Regions from separate parts of the Homo sapiens genome. Here regions 1 and 3 are each linked to region 2. The links come from fine-mapping of genetic effects on gene expression. A gene starts in region 2. Each other region holds a variant in brackets. All regions are shown on one strand. Distances are between the middles of the regions. Region 1 overlaps CGNL1 (cingulin like 1). Region 2 holds the start of TCF12 (transcription factor 12). Region 3 overlaps TCF12 (transcription factor 12).

Region 1 (8,282 bases), 570 kb after region 2:
ATAACTAATGATATCAAGTATCTTTTCATGTGCTTATTGGCCGTTTGTATGTCTTCTTTGGAGAGCTATCTGTTCAGATTCTCTGCCTATTTTAAAATTGGGTTGTCTTTTTATTACTGAGTTGTAATGGTTCTTTATATATTCTGGATATCAGTCTCTTAGTACATATTTAATTTGCAAAATTTTCTCCCCTTCTTCAGATTGTCTTTTCACTTTTTAAATGCTATCCTTTGAAGCGCAAAGATTTTTAATTTTCATGATGTCCAGTTTACTCTTTTTTCTGTTGGTACTTGTGTTGTATCTAAGAAACCATTTCCTCATCCAAGGTCATGAAGACCTTCTCTTCTTCTGCAGTCGAGTGAGAAGTGAGCAGAACTGGTGTAGGGACTGCTTCTACTGAAGGGGGTGCAAGAGAGAAGACTTAGCCATGTCATCCTTGATCATAAAGGTGATCAACACTGAGAAAGCCCAAGGGTACACTGGTCCCTTCAGTCAAGCTGCATTAGTTGACGGGATCCTTTACATTTCAGGAGAGCTAGGCATGAACCTTTCGAGTGCACAGCTTGTGCCAAGAGTGGGTAACAGAAGAAGCTAAACAGGCCCTTAAGAACATGGGTGATATTTTGAAAGCTGCAGGCTGTGACTTCACTAATGTGGCAAAAACAACTGTTTGGCTAGCTGACACAAATGACTTCCGGGCTGTCAATGTAATCTACAAACAGTATTTTAAGAGTGGTTTTTCTACTAGAGCTGCTTACCATGTTGCTGCTTTACCCAAAGGAGGCCAGGTTGAAATTGAAGCAGTAGCTGTTCAAGGACCTCTCACAACAGCCTGTCTATAAGTGGGCCCAGTGCTGTCTAGTCCGGAATTTTTAACGTCTTCATTGTCACAGTTGATATAACATCTTAATTAACATCTTGATTTTTATAATTGATGAAAAGTGTAAGTTTGACTAAAGTATCCAAAGTTATGGAAATACTATATAATAGAATTAAACATGAATTGAAGGTTAGATGGTGAATCCAGTTACTGATGTTACAAATTACACTTATGCACACCCATATCACTGAATGTAGGAAAGAGATACTCATTACATAGTTACTCAAATAACAGGGAAATAACATGTAGGAAAGATGAGTTGTTGTTCCTGAGAAATAATCAAGAGCATACCTAATTCCAATAAATTGAGTGATGTCATATATTTAGTTATCATGTCAGGTATGTGATTCTGGTAATTCTGCTTTTACTAGTTTAAAATTAAAATATTTAAATTTGAATGGTAGGGGTAAAGAAATAGAAAATGGACCAAAACTTTATATAGATAATATTTTTCTAATGGATAGAAAATAGACATGCAGATTTAAGCTTTACTCTTTTTCTAAGAATTTAATAGTTTTAGCTCTTACATTTAAGTCTATGACTCATTTTGAATTAAATTTTGAACATAGTATGAGGTAGGAGTCTATTTTATTCTTTTGCATGTAGATATTAGTTGTCCCATCACTGTTGGTTGAAGAGACGATTCTTGCCTCATTGAATTGTCTTAGCACTATTCTGTTCCTCTTAAGTTTTATTTTCCAGGCTCCCTACCATTCAAGTGGTTTCCCAGACATTAGTTTTGGTGCTGAAGCTTGGATATTAAAGCATCTGCTCAAAAGAGACTGTTTAGACCAGAAGTGACTGAGATACTACTAACTATTAAGTTCAAGTTAGGATTACTGCCATTGTAGGTAGATGAGAGGTTGTGAGAGAAATTAGAGAGATTGTGAGGAAAATTAAGCTGTTACTAGAAAAATAAAAACAGTAGCGTTTTCTCTGGATGTCTGGAGGTTGGGGAAGCATATTTTCAACCCTGCTTTGTGTGCAGCCTTACTGATGGTAACTTGGTCACCTGGAGAGATTTCGTGACAGACACAATTTCTCTACTGTAGACTGGACTTTTACACATGGACAACAGTAGTTACTTGAAATAGTGAAAAAAAATGAAAATAAGCAATAAAAATCAGGAATTCTCATAGTGGCTGTGTTACTCTGCTATTAAAAAGCTGTGTAACCTCAGGCAACTGCTCCAACCTTGCTTTATCTTATATTAAATGGGGATACTGGATTTATGACCTCTGGCTCTCTCTGGCATTAAAGTTCTATGACGTTGATGCATTTGAAGATGATGTTAACGTGGGCAGGCTTTGATGTTTAGAAACCACATTATAAAAACCTACCTAGCAGTGCCAGAAAGTAAGGAAGTGCTCCAAACACACACACACACGCACGCACGCGTGCGTGTGCACTCACATTGATGAGGTATGGCACAGGGACACAGGAACGAAATACAGAAGCTGCCGGTGGCCAAAGTCACAAAATAAGGTAGTATTGGATTATGACCCCAAAATAAAATAAATGCTCATGGTGTTCACACTGATGTAACAAGTAAATGAATACATAAATGGGGAATAATAGAGGACTCTACCTTCTGGAAGAGTTCCAAATAATTTATTTAGATATATTGCCTTCAAGTAGGTAGGGGCTCACACCCCATTCTTGAAGTTGGGCTGCACATAGTGAATTCCTTCCAGAGTGTACAGGATGAAGTGGGGGAGAAAAGAGTCACTTTTTCTGGTGGACTGGGGAGTCAGTAGAGAAACCTGATAAACATTACGTCAGCCACGTGATCAATTTCAGCATCAATCACATTGATAGTATCTACCCTTGATATGATATGCTGAAAATGACACTTTACCTTCATGGTCTTTCTACCCCAAACATCAGACAAATTCCAATTGAGGAACATCCTGCAAATATACCTTGCGCAGTACTCCTCAAACTGTTACAGTCATCAAAACCAGGGAGTCTGAGGAGCCGTCACAGCCAAGAGGAGCCTGAGGAGCTATGATGACCGAATGTGATGGAGTATCCTGAGTGGGATCAAGAGTCAGAAAAGGATGTTAGGTAAAAACTAAGGAAAGCTGAATAAAGTATGGACTTTGGTTAATAATAATAGATCAGGATTAGTTCATTCATTATGACACATGTACCATGTTCGTGTAAGATGCAGTAACAGGGGAAGCCGAGTGTGGGATGAAAGGGAATTTTGTATTATTTTAGCAGTTTTTCTATAATCTAAAGCTTTTCTATAGATAATTTTTCGTTTAGAAAAACCTACCTGGGGGAATATTCTAACACCCAGTTTGGTGCCTCTTCTGTGAAGTCATCCTCAAGCAGCCTCCTTCCCACAGTGCCACTGCTTTCTCCGTGGCACCAGTTGCATCTCTGTTCTGCCACTGGCACTGCAGTTAACTTCCTCTCTTGTCTGCCCTGCAAGGCTGTGAGCTCTTCATTCATCTTTATGCACAGCTTCTGGCACACAAGACGCACTCACATGTTTGTTAGCTGATACAATGAAAGAATGAGCCCTAGAACATATGTTTCCTGAATCCACTACATGTACCACTTTTTGCTTTGAGTCCCTGTACTCGAAGATGCTCACATTGTAGCTAAGAGGCAGAATAGTAACGGGATAATGATGCCCATGATGTAGGAAGAACAGATGAATCTCCGTTATAGAAGAGTTCCAAATAATTTAGGAAGAGAAAGAAATGCCTACTCTCTCTACTTTAGAGAACAGCATAAGTTTTGCAATGAGAATGTGTCAGAAAAGTGCTTTAAAAATATGTTCATCCCAAGAAAGATGCAAATAGTACTGGGACCAACTCCCCTCCTCCTCCTCCTTCCTGCAAACATACCTGGCCCAGTATATGTAACTCCTGAAACTGTTACGGTCATCAAAACCAGGGAAAGTCTGAGGAGCTGTCACAGCCAAGAGGAGCCTGAGGAGCAATGATGACTGAATGTAATGTGGTATCCTGAATGGGATCAAGAGCTGGAAAAGGACGTTAGGTAAAAACTAAGGAAAGCTCACTTCCAGATATTTCCAGTCAGAGACTTTATTACTTCATTTAAGGCTTTTAGTCTTTGAAATCCTCAGGTATGATGACTTATCTGGAGGCATACACTTGATTTATCAACTAAAGCCTTAGGTTTCTCACTCTGGTGAAGGCAGAACCTGGAGACCTGGCAATAGGAGGCACATCTTAAGGGAGGTTAGAGGATCTGATCAGTTCATTGATCCTAGAAATTGACATTCAAAAGATGAGGTGGGCCTAACTTGATTCATTTCCTCAGAGGCATCACACACATTTCAGGATTACACTCCAATCCTACCTAATAACAGTGTACAGATTAAGGAGTGCTAGGTTCTCATTTGCAAGGAAACTTTGTGAGCAATAGATTTGCAACTTTGTTTATACATTGACATTTTTCATAGGTTGAATCTGAGAATACTTACAAAAGCACATAGAGTAAAATAAAAAAGATATTTCTAAAAGATCATAGGAAATATAAATGTAAATAGAATCAATTCTGGGGATAGTGAGGACAAATAGAACCCAGCTGTGTAGTCCAATAATCTTGAAGGTGAATTAGAGATGTAGTCCTGAGACTTCTGGCAAAGTGAAAAAGGAAACACGATCAACTTCATGACTTTTGTTGTCCATAAGGAAAAAAAAAACCCAAAACATTTCCTCAGGGGAATTAAAGCTTCTCTTGACATATAATGCTGGAAGTTATACCCAAGTTTCCTTGCTAGCCTGGGGACCTGGGGACCCATGAGCAGAGAGAGGAGGTAGATGCTGAGATCCAGGCATGCACACTGTCATCTCTACATGCCTCAGGCCCACACATCACTGAAGAAGAAACAATAATTGTCCCAGAGTCTTGAATACGTCATCAGGTATGGGCATTTTATTTCC[A/G]GATTTTACTTCCTTACTGTGAAGTATGAGATAACATCTGTCCTTCTGCACGTGGGATAAGGGGACGAGTCTAGCTGCTAAATGTGAGTGTATGAGTATGATTCTGAGGTCTGGTTTGATACCAGGAGTTAATAAGATAAAGAACATAATAAATACATTAGACCAATATTAGTACTTTAGATAGTGAGTTTATGATTTCAAATTTGCAGTGAAGTTAATGCTGGTAAAGTTGAATCATATTGATCCTCTTGCCTTTCTTTTGAAGATATTAAAATTTAAGTAAGAGCTGAAGAAGATGATCCTTACAAGTCTGCAGTCATTCAGAATTACTCCACTTGTGCTCTCTTCTTTTGACAGGGTTACTAGGCAAGGAGATTTGGGCCACAGACAGATTTTGGAAGGAGCTTTCTAGTGATGGATGACAGGACTCTTGGTCCTGTCATGTTAACTTGTTTTTCATGACATAAAGACACAGAAAGCATGCTTATCAAGACTGTACGTGACCCAAAGCAGGCAGAGACAGCCCAAGTACAATATGGCAGAACCAAGATTCACAATGATCTCAATGGTCAGAAACAAGGGATTAAAAATCAACTTGATTAAACTGAAAAGAGATACATGATATCTGCTGTTTCTTTTTCTTTCCGTTTTGGGGATTAACTATAGAATGAAGACGCATGAGTTAGTAGGACTTCTGGATGATCGTAAGCTCCACTCCCTGGCAGCAGCACAGATACACTCATGTGTATAAGGAAACATGCTATCAAGTTTTAGAAACCTTTGAAGTACCATTTAGTGGATTTAGTGAGATTGCATATTCTCAGATTCGATGCTGTTCTTTCCATCTGCTATGGTTATAATAGGTGCATAGTTACTTTCCACAATCAGAGGTTTTCAACAAATAAAAAGTAGTTATGGAGCTCCAATTGTATATATGACATTGGTCCAGGTACTGGAGCTAAGAAGATAAGCAAGACATAGTCCAGATCCCCAAGAGAACCAGGCATCTCTCCTAAATATGTGTAGATGAGGGATGGATTCATGTACCACATGTGTAACCCCCAGTACCTAGAAGAATGAGATGGACAATAAGTGCTAAGAGAGAGATTTGAAAACACTGATTGGGGTATGAACCTGAAAATCACTTAAAAAATAAATCTGCAAAGCAAGGGATGTAGGCTCCAAAGACCGTCATTTTTATATGCCTGTGTTCTTGCCATTTAAAAAGTTTTACATTTATAGGTTCAACTAGTGACTTACTATTCTCAAGGTATAGCCATCAAATGAATATTTCTAACTGGATAGTGTGTGAGTGGGGAGGGGTTGAGAAGGATCTGTATTCTGAAATGGAGGCCAAGAAGCTTTGTTTATGATGGAAGTACAGAGGTGGAGTTCTCGTTCTCTTCTACATGTCTCTAGGACCCTCCTGTGGTTCTGTTGAAATCCAGGCTGTGAAAGAGTCCACCTCTGCCACCACCCTTTTTCTTTGTTCCTTTTTTCTCCTCTGCACCTGGATTCAGCATTTAACACCCTTCATTTATGAGCAACTTATAATAAACTACTCATATGTGATTAAGCCATTAAAAATAGAAGTAGAAAATGTAAAAGCAGGAGGAGGGATGGATTTTGTTTTGGGAATCGGCCCAATCCCATGAACTTTCTGTTCTTTCTGTTTGGGGCTAAATGGTCCCGATTCTTCATTTCAGACTAATTGCAAACTGGTGTGCATTACATTTTCCATCCCAGAACAACTGGATTATGGCTTTCTGTTCATTCCTGAACTCTAGCCACTTGCAATGGTGCACAGTGTTCAGCTGGCATCTCATCCAGCAGATTTTGGCCAAGGGTGTTCCCTGGAAACTCGAGTGTCTAGGCATGAGCTCAGACACTGGCGTGTTTGCCATCCCTCTAAATGTCTCCATGTGCTTCATGTATAATTCTAACTGTAAAGCCAGAAGGTAGCTCCTCTTCTCTGCATGCAGTAGCTTTCTCATTGCTCCTGTCTTAGGGATTTATCACTCATTCCTTGTATGACAGGAACCGTGAAGATTGTTTTCATCACCTCTACTGGAAATGGCTTGAATGAAGGTCTTTTAAAAATCTTTCTTTACATCCTTCTGGGGGCTTTATAGGGTAGAGGATCAGTTCATATAACTTGGCTATACCCTGTGGGTCCTTAAACCATGATGCTTCCTGTAGCTTTTACAGGAAGCATTTCCTGTGAAATCTCTGAAATAGTTTTCACGTGTAACTTAGAAACCAGCTGTCAGCAACTCATTTGCATGGTATCATCAGTATCCTTTTTGCTTTCTCAGTCAGCTCATTTACCACCATGCCTTCCAGTTGGTGTTGGTCTCATTACCAGCATCTTGGTGGATTGTAAGATGCAGTGACTCTGGAACCTCTGCCAGCTCTGAGACCTCGAGGTGGCATTGAGCTGTCTTGTGGGAAGGCCTCCCTTCTGTGTCAAGTATTCCTCATGGTTATTACCAGCTTGTTTCTTTAAAATCAAATGTCTCGTAAAATGTGAATTTCTGGTTTTATACCTGCAATGATTCAAAAACAGCCTTTGTTTGCCCCTTTGACCTAGGAACACCATTAAGGAGAGAAAGAAAGGATGACAGTAAATAATCAGCCCTAGGGACTCTCCGTCTAGGAAAATACAAAGGTATAGCCACTCTACTGTTTTCAAGCTCTACATATGAGAGCACTGATGAATGATTTTGGGGAGGCACTTATAAGCACCAAGTAAGGGTGTTAAATGAATCCACATTGTCTTGGGAGGTGTTTCACATGACTTGGAGTGTGACCAGCCCTATTTTCCCTGATGTAGATAGACTTTAATAAAGCATTAGGTCCCAGTGCCATTGTAAATTTTGTTAATACCAAGTGAAGGCCAAGGGAATTGGGAAGACATCTATTTTCATGTGAAAACATAACTTTGGAAGCACATAAAGCAACTAATTGACAAAAAAAAATGAAAGCATATTTCCAGAAGGCCAAGAATGTCTTGGCAATCCAGATAAATGCTGTTTGTAAAAGCAAAACTGATAACCAGGAATGACTGTGGAATGGAGCCTCATGAACTCCAAGATAAGATAAATGAGTGAAAGACAGGAGGAGGGAAGTGTGTGTTTCCTGGGAAAATGTTCTCAGGGTTATTCTAAAGCTCACTTAGACAGGCTTACCAAGGCGACAAATACATTAAAAACAAAACAAAACCCTCCAAACAGCCTTAGTTCCTTACTTGTAGGGCCTTAAAACCAAAACGTGACTGTTTCTCAGAAAATCATGGTAATTTTTAACAGAATTACCTATTGAGAAGATCAAGAGTTGTGCTTGACCTGATATTTGGGTTGAGCCCTGCCTTCTACTCTAGGGGTCCCCAGCCCTCAGGCCATGGACTGGTATAGGTCTGTGACCTGTTAGGGACCAGGAACACAAACCCTATTGTTAACTGTGCATGCGAGGGATCT
Region 2 (8,257 bases):
AACGTGCAGTGAGCTGAGATTGTGCCACAGCACTTTAATCTGAGCAATAGAGTGAGACTCTGTCTCAAAAAAAAAAATCTATTAGATTATAACTTTCTTGAGGGCAGTATGGGTTTTAGACTTTCTGTCCTGAAACATTTAACACCATGCCCGGCATGTGAGAAATGCACATTAAATACTTTTCAATATTAACTTATCGATAGGGATTAACTTATACTACACAAATAGTACTATTAATTAACACTGAATTTGTATTACTTAGTTGTTTCTCTCTGAGCTTTTCAATAAAGGCTTCTGGCCCTATCTAGATGTGTCAGCAAAGGCCCAGAAATGAGTTATAAGTGATACAAAACTCCACTTTTTATATTCTTTTTGTCTTCTATATAAGTCAGAGCTATTATAGGAGATTCACTGGTGGGAATCATTTTCTCTTATTAAAAATGACACAAGCAAAGGCTATATTATGAAAAATAACTTCATGTTATAATGTCAAATGAATGATAGCTTTAATTCCAGCTCCTCCTTTTTGGGTCTACTATGCTCTTGGCACTACGTTAGGTGCATGGTACTGACAGATGCATGTCAGTCCGAACCCTCAAGGGGTTCACAATCTAATAAGGAAAATAAATTATAAAGTAAAACTATACGGGCCATAATAGATATGAAAAACTTCACCAATCAGTCCCTAAGTAATGAGGGAGCCCCTATGACTGAAGGTTTGGGCAGACAGATATTCTTCCTCTGCACTAGTTGTGTGAGCAGGATGAGAAGAGAATCTTGAAAACAGCATGAATCCAACATGTGGGATCACATACCTTCTCCTTCTGCAAGATTTCTTTCCAGTTTTACTGTGGAGTCATAGAATCTTATCACAGTGCTATGGTTTCAATGTGTCTCCCAAAGTTCATGTGTTGACAACTTAACCCCCAATGCAAAAGTGTTGAGAAGTGAGACCTTTAAGAGAAACTTCTAAGAGGGTAGAGCCCTCATGAATGGATTACTCTCTATTGTGTGTGCTCACTTGCCACGGGATAACACGGCAAGAAGGCCCTCTAAAGATGCCAGTGCCATGCTCTTGGACTTACCGGGCTCCAGAACCATGAGCCAAATAAACTTCTTTATAAATCACTCAGTCTATGGTATTCTGTTAGCAGTAGGAGAAAATGAACTAAAACACATGGGAATGGGGCCTTAAAAATGATCTAATCAGACTTCCTACCTGACGTTTATGTCTTTGCTACTAAAAAAATGGTCATTGGGGTGGTACTGTGTAGACCACACTAGATTACAGACAACAGAAAATTCGAATCCTATTGGTCTAATCAGTGAAGATAGACCTGAATTCAGAAGTTGCTTGATTCAGAGCCTCAAAAATGTCACCAAAGCCAGGCACGGTGGCTCACGCCTGTAATCCCAGCCCTTTGGGAGCCTGAGGAGGGCAGATCACTTGAGGTCAGGAATTCCAGACCAGCCTGGCCAACATGGTGAAACCACGACTCTACTAAAAAAATAAAAAATTAGTTGGGCATGGTGGCGCGCACCTGTAATCCCTGCTATTTGGGAGGCTGAGGCAGGAGAATCGCTTGAACCTGGGAGGCGGAGGTTGCAGTGAGCCGAGATCCTGCCACCACACTCCAGCCTGGTGACAGAGCCAGACTACATCTCAAAAAAAAAAAAAAAAAAAGTCACCAAAGATCAGATCTCTATGCATGTTTGTTTTCTTGATGTCTTCTTTATTTTAACCCGGCTAGACTTGTATTTGGAAGATGGCTACCCACCATCCAGGGGACCCGTTTTTTTGAGGACATGCAGAAAGAATGGGTTACCTCTGAAGCGCTCTCAGAAAATGAAAGAAAAACTTTTCCCAACAAAGACCAGGAAATTGCTCCTCTCATTGGCCCAAATATGTTACGCTCATTGCCAGCCAATAACTGTGGCAGGGAATGGGATTCTGCTGATTTAGGTTGGAATTATGCTACGTTGCTTAGATTGGGACCACATGCCCCTGTAAGTAGGCAGAGCAGGGATGTGACTCAGAACTGGGCTTGTTTACCAAGATAAGGAAGAGTGGATACTGGGGAGTCTAGGCCACCATAAGTTTCAGGTACAGCCAATGCAAAGCCTTGGAAATCCACCTGACAGCTCCGGTTGTACCGTCCGCCCTCCGTATCTGGGGTTTCCAAATTCCGGGATTCAATCAACTGAAAACAAAAAATGTAGTTAGGCTTACCAGGCCTGAAAATACATGAAAATATAGAGCCTAAAATATAGCCTGAAAATGTACTGAAAATATAGAGATTTCTTTGGATGATTATTTCCTAAATACACCTTAACAACTATTCACATAGCATTTGCATTGTATTAGGTTTTATAAGTAATCTAGATATGATTTAAAGTATATGGGGAAACACACCATTTTTATGTAAGAGACTTGAACATCTTAGAAAATCCAGAGTCTGGGAACCAATCCCACGGATATAGAGACAACTGTACTAACTACAGTAATGGCATATGGTAGCTGAATCTACCTCTCTTTCCATCCCAGTCCGGAATCCAAAGGCTCCTTCTTGCCATGTTGTCCTCGGGCGTTGGCTGCTTCCTCCCATTTGTTACTTTGGAAGTGTCTTCTTTCCTCAGTGTTTCTTCTGCGTGGGCCTTACCGGTCTTTACTGCACTCACTTACCTAAGAGGCAAAACAATGGCTGCCATTCAAGAAAATCTCACTTCAGCCCAGAATCGAAGAACTGGGGCTTATTTTGTCTTCTTTCTACTCTGGGGCTTCTCTGAGGCCAAGTTCAGAACTTGTGCACAAGACAGTGGCTGTGTGACAGAGCCACCCAGGGCTGTCTCCGTTAGATGAAGAGACTGGCTTGATCCATTCCCAAGAACTAGTCCCACGTGCAGTTCGGTTGCTCCGAATGGGATTTGGGTGCGAGGGGCTGACTGGAGATGTGGGGTCTGGGTGAGTGGGGTATTTGAGAACCTGAAGCTCACAAGGCTTTGTCTGGTTTGAGGTACGTTTTGCCCTTTCTCCCGCATTCGGCTCTGCATCGAATCTGACCGGCCGCGCCTACTCTCGGAACGGCCGAGGAGGATGGGTCTCCCGTCTCCACACGCGCGGTGTCTGCGCCGACTGCAGCCCTCCTGGACGGGAGCCTCTGGGCCCAGCTTAGGGTGGCGTCCAGCGTGACCTACTCGGGAATGGCAGCCTTCAGTGTCCTGCGGCCTCGGGTTCCGGGAAGCTCGGGGACCTGGGCAGCGGATCCAGATGCTTCCACAGCTGTGTCTCCGTCGCTCCGCTTCGGGGGCCGAGAACCAGCAAGACCAACGCGAGGAGGCGCCACGGTACCTGCCACCCCGCTCCCAGGAGGCCCGGACGAGGCTTCGTCGGCGAGCGGTCGGGGCCTGCTTCTCGAGGTGCCTGCGAGCGCCTCATGCCCCTCCCCACCGGCCCCAACTCCGTCCCGCCTCACCCGACCGCGGGCTTTGTCCACCCGCCGCGGTGCGGCTCCTCCCAGTCCCCGACAGCTCCTCCCCGCCCCCTCTGCCGGCCCCACTTCCTAGGCGGCGGAGCGGGTCGGGGAGGGAAGGGTTAACCCGCGGCTCTTCCCGGCGCGGAGGGATCCGGAGGCGAGCCGAGCGCGGTGGTGAGGCCGCCTCAGCGAAAAAAATGTCCGCCTGAAGAGACCCACAAGTTCTATTCGGGGGGACCGACAGCCCGCCCCGGGAGGAAGGGGCGGCCAGGCCCGAAAGCCGCCTCCCCCTCCCAGACCCGAGAGCTCGTGCGGGGCAAAGTGAACCGAGCCGCTGGGCGGTGCAAGGGGAAGCCCAAGCCCGTTCTCCCGGCCAAAGTGAACTTTAATCGGGGTGGTTGGATGCGGAGACGGGGCGGCAGGTAATTGCGGGCTAGCGAGCGGGAGTGGGGCGGCGCGGCGGGGCTGGGGGCTGCGGGGCGCCGCCGCGTCCCTGCCGGAGTGGGGGCGCCCCCGTCCCCCGCCTCAACTCCGCGCCCCTTTGTACAGCGCGAAACCCGGGGTCCCCTCCAAGTTGGGGAGCGGAGTGGGGGCGGAGGCTCGAGTCGCGGGCGCTCAGGCCCGCTGGCGGCGCGCTCGGCCTGTGCGCCCCGTTCGGTGCCCGACTCGGGCCGGCGCCCAGGCTCCGGGGCGCGCGGGAGATCGGGCGGCTTCGGCCGCGGAGCCAGGCTCATTGTTCGGCAGGTCCGGGGCAGGGCAGCAAAAGTGGGAGGAGGCCGAGCCTGGGGAGGAGGACGCCGGCCGAGAGCGAGACTAGTTGTCGGGGTTTCTGTTTTCTGTTTAAAAACGCCCCTTGGATGAGCTGGGGGTGCTTTCCGACCTCCTGGGCCCGCCGGGGACGTCCGGGCGGCGGCGGCCGCAGACGCGGGCCTGCGAGCGGCGCGTTCCCTGCAACTTGTCAGTTCTATTGTTGCCGAGCGAGTGAGTCACTTCGCATCTCCGCTCGCCGCCGCTCCGCTCGCTGGACGCCGAATTGCCCCTCACCCCGCTCCTCGAGACCCCAGCCGCGGCCGGGCCCGGCGCGCGGAGCACCCGGCGGCGGCGCGGAGCAGGGGGCGCCGAGGAGGTGGCAGAGACTGGCTCGGAAACTTGGGGGAGAGGCGGCGAGTTGCGGGAGCCGCCGCGTCGATCTCGGGCCGCGGCGAGGAACGCGTGGATTCCGGGACCCGGCGCGGGCACTGAGCCCTCCCGCCCCTTGCTCGCGCCGCGGTGGGAGCGAGTCGGGGTCCTGGAAGTCATCCCGGCGCCCCCAGCGCTCTTGCGTAATCTTCCCCAGTACCTCTCTCTGTTCCCTCACACACTTTGGGCCTCGGTGGTCTCTCGCTGAGCCCGTTTCCTCTGCCCTAGGACCTGCTAGAAGTGGCCGAAGATGAATCCCCAGCAACAACGCATGGCCGCTATAGGGACCGACAAGGAGCTGAGCGACCTACTGGACTTCAGTGCGGTATGAGAGCTTTCCATGGCATCTTGGGGTTCTGCTGAGGTTTTTGTTTGTTTGTTTGTTTGTTTCTTTTAAATAAAGGGTGAGGGGAAGCAACGTGGAGACTAGGCAGCGTGAACTCCATCTGCTTTCTGCTTAAGCAGTAGTTCTCAGGGCTGGAGTCCAGCTCCCCCAAGTTGGACACCTGAACTTTGATGTAATGTCTAGACTTGCACATTTAAAACTTTAATGCCAGAGGGGTCATTTGATTTAACCAGTTAAAAGGAGAACAATGTAATTATGACCTTTGGTTGAGTCACCCTCCCACCGCGATGATTATTGGGGATCTTGTACTTTATATGAAAAAGTGTTGTTTTTTTCTTCAGTACTCCTCACCATTTTCCTCTCCAGTATCAGATGTAGTTTATGGTACCTGAAAGATGTCAGCGACAAGAAAAGTAGTCCAGAGCTAGAATTTCGAGCCTTCTGAAACAGAGTACTTTTATTTTATACACACACACACGTGTGTGTGTGTGTGTGTGTGTATTATGTTCTTAACATGGGAAATGACTTAAAAACATCAACTGAAACCTAAGGGCCCACTGCTTTTATTTTTAATGGGTTTAATTCCTTTATTAACTGCTGTTAGGAGGCAGCACCTATACCTGCTTTATACAATTCAGTTATAATCCTTACTGTATGTAGTAATTTAATGGGCCATAATTCTGACTGTGTATATTGAGATATAATGTAAATGTAATGAAATTCACTTAGTTCTGCAGTAAAGATCATGTGTAATACTATACTGTTTAAACTTAATAATCTTGGACTCTTCCATGTAAATGATCGGGTCTTCAGAACAAAATGTAACCATTATTTCCAATTAATTAGGAAATAGTATCATTCAGTGTATTTGCCTCTCTGGATCTGAATGTATCTCCAATTTTATTTTAACTTCCCTCTGAAATTTAATAACTGATGGATGACTTTTGGTGGACTTTTGTTTGCAAGGAATCTAGAAGAATTTCAGGACTAACAGATATATTTGGGTTATTTTGCAGATGTTTTCCCCACCTGTTAATAGTGGGAAAACTAGACCAACTACACTGGGAAGCAGTCAATTCAGTGGATCAGGTAAGATGATGTCTTAAACTAAAGACTCATATTTTGGTGGTGTGATACATTTTAGTAGAAAAATAGAAAGCATAACATTTAAATATTATTGAATATATGTATATAAAAGATGGAATTGAGTCAAGTGATAATTAGTAAGATTTATTAATTTTAAAAGATGACAGTTCCCTCAGAAATCTGTAGGAAATCAGTAGTTTCGTTTACAATTATTTAAAATGTTAGTGGGGTAAATTTTCAAAATGAATAGAAACTTAGATTTATTTTTAAATGATAAGTATTAGATGACTGAATCCTTTCCTATATCCAGATTACATTATGATAATGTTTAGAGTAAGTTAAAGTAGATCTACACACTAGTGATCTTGTCTTTAAATTTACTTTCAATACATTTATGACTACTGTGCTCCATTTTAAAACATCCCATTTTTCTTAAGTATGCATTTTTTCTTTTTTTAACTTTTAAAAACTCATAATTTAAAAATATTTTAGAAGGAAGGTCCATTCCAGTGTGCAAAAGCTGTAACTTTTTATTTAATTTAAATTTATTTCTTTGTGCTTAAGAGATGAAAAAAATAACTAAAGCCATGACAGCATCATCTTAAGAAAACCAACTGTCAAATCTCTGGGCTGAAACTCAGTAATGCCTCTTTGATGGGTGCTTTTTATTTCCCCTGGTAAAATGATAGTTGGTTTCTTAAAATACTGTGAGAATAAAACATCAGAAAATAAGGTTAATTTCATAACCACCTAAACACTTTATACCACTTTACATTCTAAAAAGTTTGTTTTTAAAAATTGTATACTAATTTATTAAAATTCATTTTTAATTATGAAATTAGAGCTTATGGGGAAAGTATAGCATGTCCTTAATCATCTTAAGTAAGTGAAATGAAGGCATTTTTTGGATTTTAAGTAGGGTAAAGACTAGTATTATTCTTGATCAAAAGGACATCATGAAACGATAGGCAAGTCCCAACTCTTCTCTCACCTCCTTCCTTTTACTGGTAATCATTTGAAAATTGTTACTTTTTGGGGAGGGGGGAGAAAATTTAATAATCTTAAAGTTGTAGAAGATGGCTGTATTTCTTTACTGGTGTTGATACATCTCATTTTTGCAACTAATAATTCATTCTCAGGAACCTTCAGATTTACTTTGACTAATACATAGTAGATGATGCTTAGTATTTTTTAAAAATGAGTCTTGATATTACTGTTGCCTACTGTTCCAGCTTAAGTTATGGTAAATATATATAACTGGACAGTCACTGATACAATAACATGAACTCCAGGAACTTGCTGTTAGAAGTGCATTCTATTTTTAGAATAAAGGCAATTACATTTATTTCACTTTTTAAACTTAAGAAGGATTTATGTAGTCTGTGAAATTAAAAAGTATGTGAACTGGGATATAGATTATAAGCATGGCATTGGAGCAATTTTTGGACTTCAGTACGTTGCATTGCACAAAGAAAAAATTATTTTTCTACATTGCGAATGGTCACCATATTTGATTATTTGGAGTAGGAACTTTTAGTTTTAAAAGTTAGATTTGTTATCCATTGAAAGGTTTGAACTTACACACCTGTAGTCAGTGGACTTAGCAATATTTATCTGTGTGTTTTGTTTTAAATGCTACAAAAAATTGTAATAAAAAAGCTGTGACTTTTAATTAGTGAATGGATTTGAATTTGGGGAAGAGAAAATGCCATGTGATTTTTTTTCAAATCAAGATGTACTGGTAGATATAATTTTTCTGTGGCCAGTTCTTAAAGGGAATGTCTAAAAGAAATTGGTATAGTAACATTATTTTACTTATATATTTTATATTTATATACCTTATTGACATTTGAATAACCTTCTGCCCTGATTTCAAAGGATATTATGTAATACACTCTAATGCCTATGTATTTGCAGCTATTAAGGAGCTAAAGATCTGACTTTCCTTTTGAAGAGCTGCTGTAGTAAAGATTAGGGTTTTTTGTTTGTTTTCTGTTTTGTCTTTGGAGTAACATTTATAAAAACTACATGCCATTTGACTTATGAAAACTAGAGTTTATAGTCAGGTATTGTAATTTCCTTTCTTATTTGTCCTTTTTGAGGAAGACTCAATTTCACAGTGGGCTGTTTTTGAGAAACGATATATAATACTTTCAGAAGCTTTTTTAGCTGA
Region 3 (8,000 bases), 150 kb after region 2:
CAAACAAAAATCTGGATCCAGTTTCTCCTTGGCAACTCTTCTTGCCAAGGAGAACTTTATGGTTGTCTTTGAAGCCTCCCTCAGTACTACTTTATAGGGAAATTATCAGCTTTTGGGGTTTCATCTTTTAACAGTATTCACCATCTTGACCATTTCTTTCATAATCATAAGCATAAATGGGTATAATTGTGTTGATAAGAATCTCAACTAAAGTACTTCATTCTCCTATTTTAGTATATTGAATTTCTTAAATTCTTATTTAAGTACATTGAGGTTCTTAAATTCAAAAATAAATATTAATGTTGGCTAAAGACTAGTTTTGACTTGTTAGTTAAAAATTTGTCAACTTAAACAATGTAGTTGCAGATACTTCAGTAGAAATCAAGTAAATGAAATTTATTTAGACTTTATCATATTATATAAATATTACATTTCTATCAGCAGATTCCATTATTTAAAAATAATTTGATTTTCAGTAACATCACTAAATAGAAATTTTTTATTATACTTTTTATAACATTTGAAAATGCTTAGTAGGCCAAAAAAAGGGTATTAGAAACTGCAAAATGAGTAATTTGTTGGAGATACAATATACCTGCTTTAAACTTAACATGAATTGAACTATCTGAGCTGCCTGCCATTCTATCCCTCTCCCATTCCCATGCCAAACTATAAGGGAGAAACAATACTTTCTTTACAATAATATGAAACCATATTTGGCAGATGAACCCTATTAATATTGTATGTTATATGTTACTGTATGGGAATAGTTACACAAAGTCATATTGATTGAACTTATTCTTTATTTAATAGCTTTTCAAGGGAAATTTTTGCTATGTACACTATTTGCCTTACAGGGTCCTGACTTTAATTGTAAGATACCATTCTACTATAGTAGCCTTGATGCATAAATGAGCTCCACCTGAGTTATGTATTAAGCGGTCACAAACTTCTTATCTCTGTGTTAGGCTTATCCCCATTCTTTCAGAATTAGGAAAAGTCACTCTAGCATGGTTCCAGTCTGTGTGTCTGCCCTTGCTTTTACCAAATCCACCAGAAAAGTAGCCTCGCAGTTTAGAGGTGATTAAGTTTCTGGTTATCAGAAGTACCTACAGCAATCCATTCAGTGAAGAGGTTTCGCTAGGTTGACATAAAAATAGACATTGTACCTAAGAGTGGTTATAGGCCGGGCGCGGTGGCTCACGCCTGTAATCCCAGCACTTTGGGAGGCCGAGGCGGGCGGATCACGAGGTCAGGAGATCGAGACCATCCCGGCTAAAACGGTGAAACCCCGTCTCTACTAAAAATACAAAAAATTAGCCGGGCGTAGTGGTGGGCGCCTGTAGTCCCAGCTACTTGGGAGGCTGAGGCAGGAGAATGGCGTGAACCCGGGAGGCGGAACTCGCAGTGAGCCAGATCCCGCCACTGCACTCCAGCCTGGGCGACAGAGCGAGACTCCGTCTCAAAAAAAAAAAAAAAAAAAAAAAAAGAGTGGTTATAGAAGAAATGGTAGGCATGGTCAGCATTCTTAGGCAATGTGGATTTCACATTTCCTAAGCATGTCTCAGCATGTTTGAGACACCCAGAGGGAAGGAACAAACATTTGTTCCTTCCTCTCTACTTTTGTTAGAGTCCTGGTTTCTGCACTCTTCATCTGCTGTCTACCTGTGCAGAGAGCATAGACACACACATGAACATATAGATAGAATCATGTTGTGAATAGCACTTCCAGTTTTAGAAATTTGTGAATGTGGTGATAAAGGTAAAGCACCTGAGACTGAAAGGAGTGATTAAAATCTCAGGTAGTTTAGACATGGGCAAGAGATCTAGTTAATGAGTTTGTTCCCTCTCTCCCTTGCTTTTTATTCTTTATTGCATAGAAATGTTGGTGTACCAGGCATAAAGGCCAGAGAATATTGTGGTTGTTCTTGTTCACTAAGGTGTTAATGACTTACTCTAGTTTCAGATTTTTTTTTTCTCTTCAGAAGGCTGTGCTTAAGAGGGCAGACTGTGAAATCATACTGCTTGGGTATAAATCGTAACTCTGCCACTTACTACCTGTGTGATTCTGGACAAGTTATTTAAATCTAGTGTACTTCGGTTTAGTCATCTGTGAAATGGGGATAATGATATCTGTTTCATGAAGTTGTTGAGGATTAAATGAGGCAATATATGGAAATTGCATAGATCAATGTCTGATATGTGGTGAGTGCTATATAAGTGTTGGCTTTAAACCTGTGTATCTCAAAATTCACCCATTAGATCTATATTTAACAATTACACAAATTTAAACACATGGATACATTTGCAAATATGCTGTATTCTAAGTGTAATAAATGAGAATTATTTGCCGACTCAGTCATGCTTAATTTAACTACTTTTATTTATTTTAAATGTATGAAGGACATAAATAAAATCAATTTCCCCTCTTCAACTGTTTATTTCTTTCTTGGGAAAGCAACAGTCTCTTCCTGCCAAACTTGGATATAAAAGTTATCAGTCTCTCTAGTATAACACCTTATACATGATGAGTGCTCTATACATGTTTGCTGAATATAATCAAATTCGGGAACAATCATCAGATTTACTAGATTAACTAGGCTGGGAGGTTGAGGAAGGAAAGAATCAAAGTTGATTTAAGGTGAAGCTTGAAGTAGGTGGTGGTGGTATTAATGGTAATAATAAGTGATTTGGAAACTTGTACTGTGTGACCATGGGAAAGTTACTTCTATGTGTCTTAGTTTTCTGGTCTCTAAAATTATGATAATTTTACATGTATTTTGTAGGGTTTTGGTGAAGATGAAATGTGATAATAGGTATGAAGTATTTCATTTATTGATATAATAAGTGAGAACTGCTATTATATTGTTATTTATAATAATTTGAAGTACATTTTCATGGTTATATTTCTTGATGTACAAATTCTGTTTCTAGAATGTCGAGTTATATGAGTTTGTGGAAATGTCAAGAGGCCAGGTCATCTTGGTTTCTCTGCCTTTTTAACTGTGTTAGCCAACCTACGCCAAGCTCTGGAGTAGAGTATTAAAGTACCATTGAGGTTTGCATCCTGGGGTGGGAGTAGGAGAGAGGAGTATATTGATACTCTTTTCTAAGATACAGAGTTGGTCATTCCTTAGTTTAAAAGATAGAATTGAGTTCACTGATAGGAAACCACTGATAGGAATTACATTTATAGGCATCATCAGTGATCAAGAGTTGGCATTTTAATCATGAACATTTTTCAGTTTATATGTAATCTATTATGGTAGTTATTTTTTTAAAAAAGAAGCAATATTAAGTTGAGTAGAGTTTGAGTGCTTTTTAAAAAAATGAATTGCTAAATGTCCACCATGGTTTTCTCTTCTGTCTGTATTATGGCTTGCAGAATGAAACAGTCATTTAT[C/G]TTTTTGCTCTTTCTTCCCTCTGTGTTTTACAGTATCATAGAATTTTCAAAACTGAAAGATGCATTGGTTATATATGTTCTGTCTCTTTATTTCCTACATGAGGAAACTGAAACGACATGTTTGAGATTTGACCAGGTGTAGATTTGTGCTGTATGTAGAGATTTGGCTAGGCTATGTGACTAGTTAATGACAGCCTCTGGCATGACAGAACTCAGATATTCTGAATCTTATGCTAGTGCTTTTTAACCCCTTGACTTTAGTACTTCCCAACTCAAAGAACTTTACGTTTTCTGCCATATACTGAAGGAATGGGAAAAGAGAGAGGAGAAAGGTGAAAATAGAAGAGGGTCTGCAGCTGATAAAAGAGGACATGGGACATGATATGATAGAACAGTTTAGCAAGTATAGTGTATTGGGTAGAATAGCATAGAATTTAAGAGCTTGAGCATTAAAATCAAGCTGTCTTGGGTTCTATTTCTGGCACTTCTGCCTCATTGCTCTGTGACTCTGAGCAAGTTATGTGTTTTTACTTTAATCTTTTTTTCTTTTTTCATTGATTAAAAGGGGGTGGGTACTAATAATAACTTCCTCACTAAAGTTTGGGGCTTATACCTGTCAGTGGAAAGGGGAAAACCAGTTGTGTGGTGATGATTTAGCTTTAAAATACTTGATTTAGCTGCTGTATATGATTCAGCACAAGATGATATCCGGGATTTTTTTTTTATTAAGGGATAGTAATAGGTATGTTCTGAGGCTTTTTGTTTCAATACATGCTATGATTTCTGATACCTATAGCAATAAAGGGATATGAGGATTCAGTTCATTTAAAAAGCATCAGCAGTGGTTTTTTTCACAGACCAGTTGTTAAAAACAAAAACGGACCATAGACCCAACTAGGTTGAAAATGAAAATATGTGGGTACAAGGATTTAAGTATTTCTCCAGTCTTCTAAAGTTCATAGACAAAGCCATAGATTGGGGCCTTGGGATAAGGGAAACAAAAATAAATAAAAACTCAGTGAAAGTAAACATAAGCTTTCAGATTCTATGGGAAAGTAAAATCAGCCTATAAGATTATCTGGATGAGATTAATGTCATTTTTCTTGCAAATCCTGGACCATTCCTGCCAGATATGGCTAAAGGGAACTTTAATTTTGTTTAGCGCTCTCTCCATTCTTAACAGGAGTTCAGTATTTTTTCGTTAATGTGGAAGAGTTTGGCTAAGAACCTCTCTATAGTTTGTAGGTAGTGAGTTAGAAATAGGATAATAGAACCTTGGTTTTTCTAATGTGCTATCTATACAAAAAACACAGGTCATTCTGACCTCAGCAGGGTCATACTGGCTGGAGGTGTAGAAGGAACTGGTGGGTAGTTCATTTACATTTGACAGCAGATGCCTTAAGAGTGTATCTATGGGCAGAGGCAACCTGTAGTTTCCTTCCTCCAACAGAGTCCAGTGGCATAAGAACAGTATAGTTGGCCTGCTTTTAGGGAGGTTGGACTTACCCTGATCCCCCAATTTTAAGATGTTGAGATTTGTAAATGCATTCAGTTTCTTAAATGTTAAAGGTGAATAAATGTGTATCTTATAGTTCAGGAAATATGCTTAGACATGTAAGTCATATTTGCCTAAAGAGTTACTTTTTAGGCTGGGCGTGATGGCTCACACCTGTAAACCCAGTACGTTGGGAGGCTAAAATGGGAGGATTGCTTGAGCCCAAGAGTTTGAGACCAGCCTGGGCAACAAAATGAGACCCCCTCTCTACAAAAAATAGAAAAAAAAAAAAATCCAGGTCTGGTGGTGCGCACCTGTGGTCCGAGCTACTCAGGAGGCTGAAGTGGGAGGATTACATGAACCCAGGGGTTGAGGTTGTAGTGAAGAAAAAAAAAAAGTTGCTGGTTCACACCTGTAATCCCAGCACTTTGGGAAGCTGAGGCAAGTGGATCGCTTGAGTCCAGGAGTTCAACACCAGCCTCTGCAACATGGCAAAACCCCATCTCTTAAAAATTTAGCCGGGTGTGGTGGTGTTGGCTGTAGTCCCAGTTACTCGGGAGGCTCAGGCAGGAGAATCTCTAGAGCCCGGGAGGCGGAGGTTAGAATGAGCCTTACTACACTCTAGCCTGGATGGCAGAGTGAAACCCGATCTCAAAACAAAAAACAAAAAACAAACACAGCCCAAAAAACTTCTTAACTCTTTTAAGACAGCAGTGGAGATGCTGTAATTAGGCAACAAATAGTTAATTACGAAAATAATTTTCTTGGCTACTGTGAGATTCCAGAGGAGGGAGATTACTTTGGATGGTCAAGAAAGACTTAATAGAGGAGGAAGTGTTTGAGTAGACTGTTACAGGACAGATAGCATTTGAATAGGGCTGGAAGAAAGTCTGGAAATATGGAATGATGGAAACAGTACAGTGGTCTCATTACAAAATTCGGTAGATAATAAATCAGCTTACTTTGTGGGAAAATAGTACGAGATAAGGCAGGTTAACATTTCTGTAGAAAAAAATGTTATCTATTCTTTGGGAGCCAATTAAAAATAGATTTTATACACAAAATGTTTTATAAATATTAACTTACTGTGGTATGAAGAATGGATCCAAGGTGAAAGAGTGACAAAAAATAGGATGATCTGAAAAGATGGTACATGGACCCACGGATAATGAAATAAGACTTGGATTGGGAGGATAGTAATCAGATTGCAAAGTTATATAAGAAATTTCACAAAGGGGAAAACACAAAACTGGTACAACTAAGTGACTGGGAAAGATATAAAATCATGTAGACTCACTTCACCCACAAAATGGTAACTCCTGAATTAAACTTCATGTGTTTTATTTAGGCTTTGTCAAGTTAGCTATGGTTGTATTAAAACAGATTGTTTGATTTTGATAAATAGTTTTCCTTAATACATGGGAAAATCGAGTTGTGTGAATAAAGAAATATAAAATAGCTTTTACTCAGTTGTCCCATTTGTCAGCATTGATGGGTAATAAAGATTAGTGTTACTTTTTCTTCTCTAGTGTAGATATTTTCTCAAAATTGTGTGTTTGCTATTGTTTTTATTTTTGAAGGGGAAAAAGGTATACATTTTATAGCTACTAGGAGTTCAAATACAGTAATTAGAAAGGACACACGAATTTTGAAATAGTATTTTATGCCTCTTGATCTCAGGTACAATACACGAGATGAAGCAGTTAAATAGCAAAGCAAGACAGAAGGGTCAGAGAATTAAAGTAAGTGTTTTCTATATATTGCATCTGTGTTCCCATTAATCTCTGTTTTGTTATGTAACTGCTCCTTCTGAATGTTCTGAATGTGAAGAAAACTATGAGTAAGAAAAAGGGTGTGTTTTAAAGTTAGGTTTAAATAAAGCCAGAAGAGTAAAATGTTTTTACTCTTAGTTCTGTTTGAAACAGCACCTGCCTATAAATTATAACCTAAATGTTTTTGGATAAGAAAAAATTGGGTTGTGATGATGTAAGCACCTTTAAATCTCTTGCTAGCAGATATTTAAAGTGAAAGAAAGCACATACTGATCAGATTGCCCATGTTTCCATTTTAAGACAATTAAAGCTTCTGTTTTTTTCAGACTAGCCTTTCTTCCTGGGGACAACACTTACTGAGAGGCTTTGCTGTGGATCTTTTTGGAAATAACCTTCATGTCAATTTCTCACCTTACTGTGATTAACTTTCTAGGCCCATGAAATAACATCTTGATCAGGACTGATCTAATCTTTATAGTTTTCTTTTTTAATCTTCTAACTGTTCAGATTTTAAAGTTAACAAGTAAAAATCAAAGCATATTAATCTTTGAATCTTTATGTCCCTTTTTGTAATTGTTGAGGTCTTTCTTGACAGCCTGTTTAATATTTTTTCCCTAAGTTTAGAGATTGCTTATTTGTGGGAATAAAAAGTAGGGTGACACTTTTTTGTACCCACTTGGGTTTTTAAATTAATAACAATGAAATCATAACCAGCACTTGTCACAATTTAGTTTACACACTTTCATGTTACCTGCTTTGATCTTCACACGAGCTCACCAAGAAGCCATTTTTAAAATCTTCTCCATTTTAGAGGTGACAGAATTGAAGCTCAGAAAAGGTAGATAACTTATCAGATATTAAATGCTTAGGACTTTATCCAGGCTGTCTCTAAATTACTTTCCCTTTTTACTGTGTTGCATTTGCCAAATTATAAAAGAGACCCCCAGAACAGTTATTTCTACTTGTGCAGGACTTGAAGGACAGAGTCACTAGAAGTTTTTTTGTTTGTTTGTTTGTTTTTTGAGACGGAGTCTCGCTGTGTCGCCCAGGCTGGAGTACGGTGGCGCAATCTTGGCTCACTGCAAGCTCTGCCTCCTGGGTTCATGCCATTCTCCTGCCTCAGCCTCCCGAGTAGCTGGGACTACAGGCGCCCACCACCACTCCTGGCTAATTTTTTTTGTATTTTTAGTAGAGACAGGGTTTCACCGTGTTAGCCAGGATGGTCTCGATCTCCTGACCTCATGATCCGCCTGTCTCGTCCTCCCAAAGTGCTGGGATTACAGGCATGAGCCACCACGCCCGGCCTTAGAAGTTTCAGGATAACGGTACT

What was found. PIP is the estimated chance that this variant, and not a neighbour inherited with it, causes the effect.
Region 1: its variant is fine-mapped to the expression of TCF12 in stomach (GTEx, PIP above 0.99).
Region 3: its variant is fine-mapped to the expression of TCF12 in whole blood (INTERVAL, PIP 0.92).

What each region holds. Positions count from the first base shown.
Region 1 is chr15:57,488,145-57,496,426 of GRCh38, forward strand. All of the region lies in intron 8 of CGNL1 (cingulin like 1), which reads left to right. It also overlaps the pseudogene RIDAP3. Among named protein-coding and RNA genes, the nearest start is that of GCOM1, 100 kb to the right of the region's middle. The variant A/G (reference allele first, on the strand shown) is at 4,807.
Region 2 is chr15:56,915,012-56,923,268 of GRCh38, forward strand. It overlaps TCF12 (transcription factor 12), which reads left to right and starts at 3,633. Exons shown (of 21, transcript NM_207037.2): 1 at 3,633-3,895; 2 at 4,881-4,977; 3 at 6,015-6,087. The coding sequence starts at 4,903. It overlaps TCF12-DT (TCF12 divergent transcript), which reads right to left and starts at 3,488. Exons shown (of 4, transcript NR_015419.2): 1 at 2,529-3,488; 2 at 2,054-2,201. RefSeq lists silencers at 2,793-2,932, 3,453-3,582, 3,753-3,802, 3,893-4,182, 4,233-4,672.
Region 3 is chr15:57,066,075-57,074,074 of GRCh38, forward strand. All of the region lies in intron 4 of TCF12 (transcription factor 12), which reads left to right. Among named protein-coding and RNA genes, the nearest start is that of TCF12, 150 kb to the left of the region's middle. The variant C/G (reference allele first, on the strand shown) is at 3,404.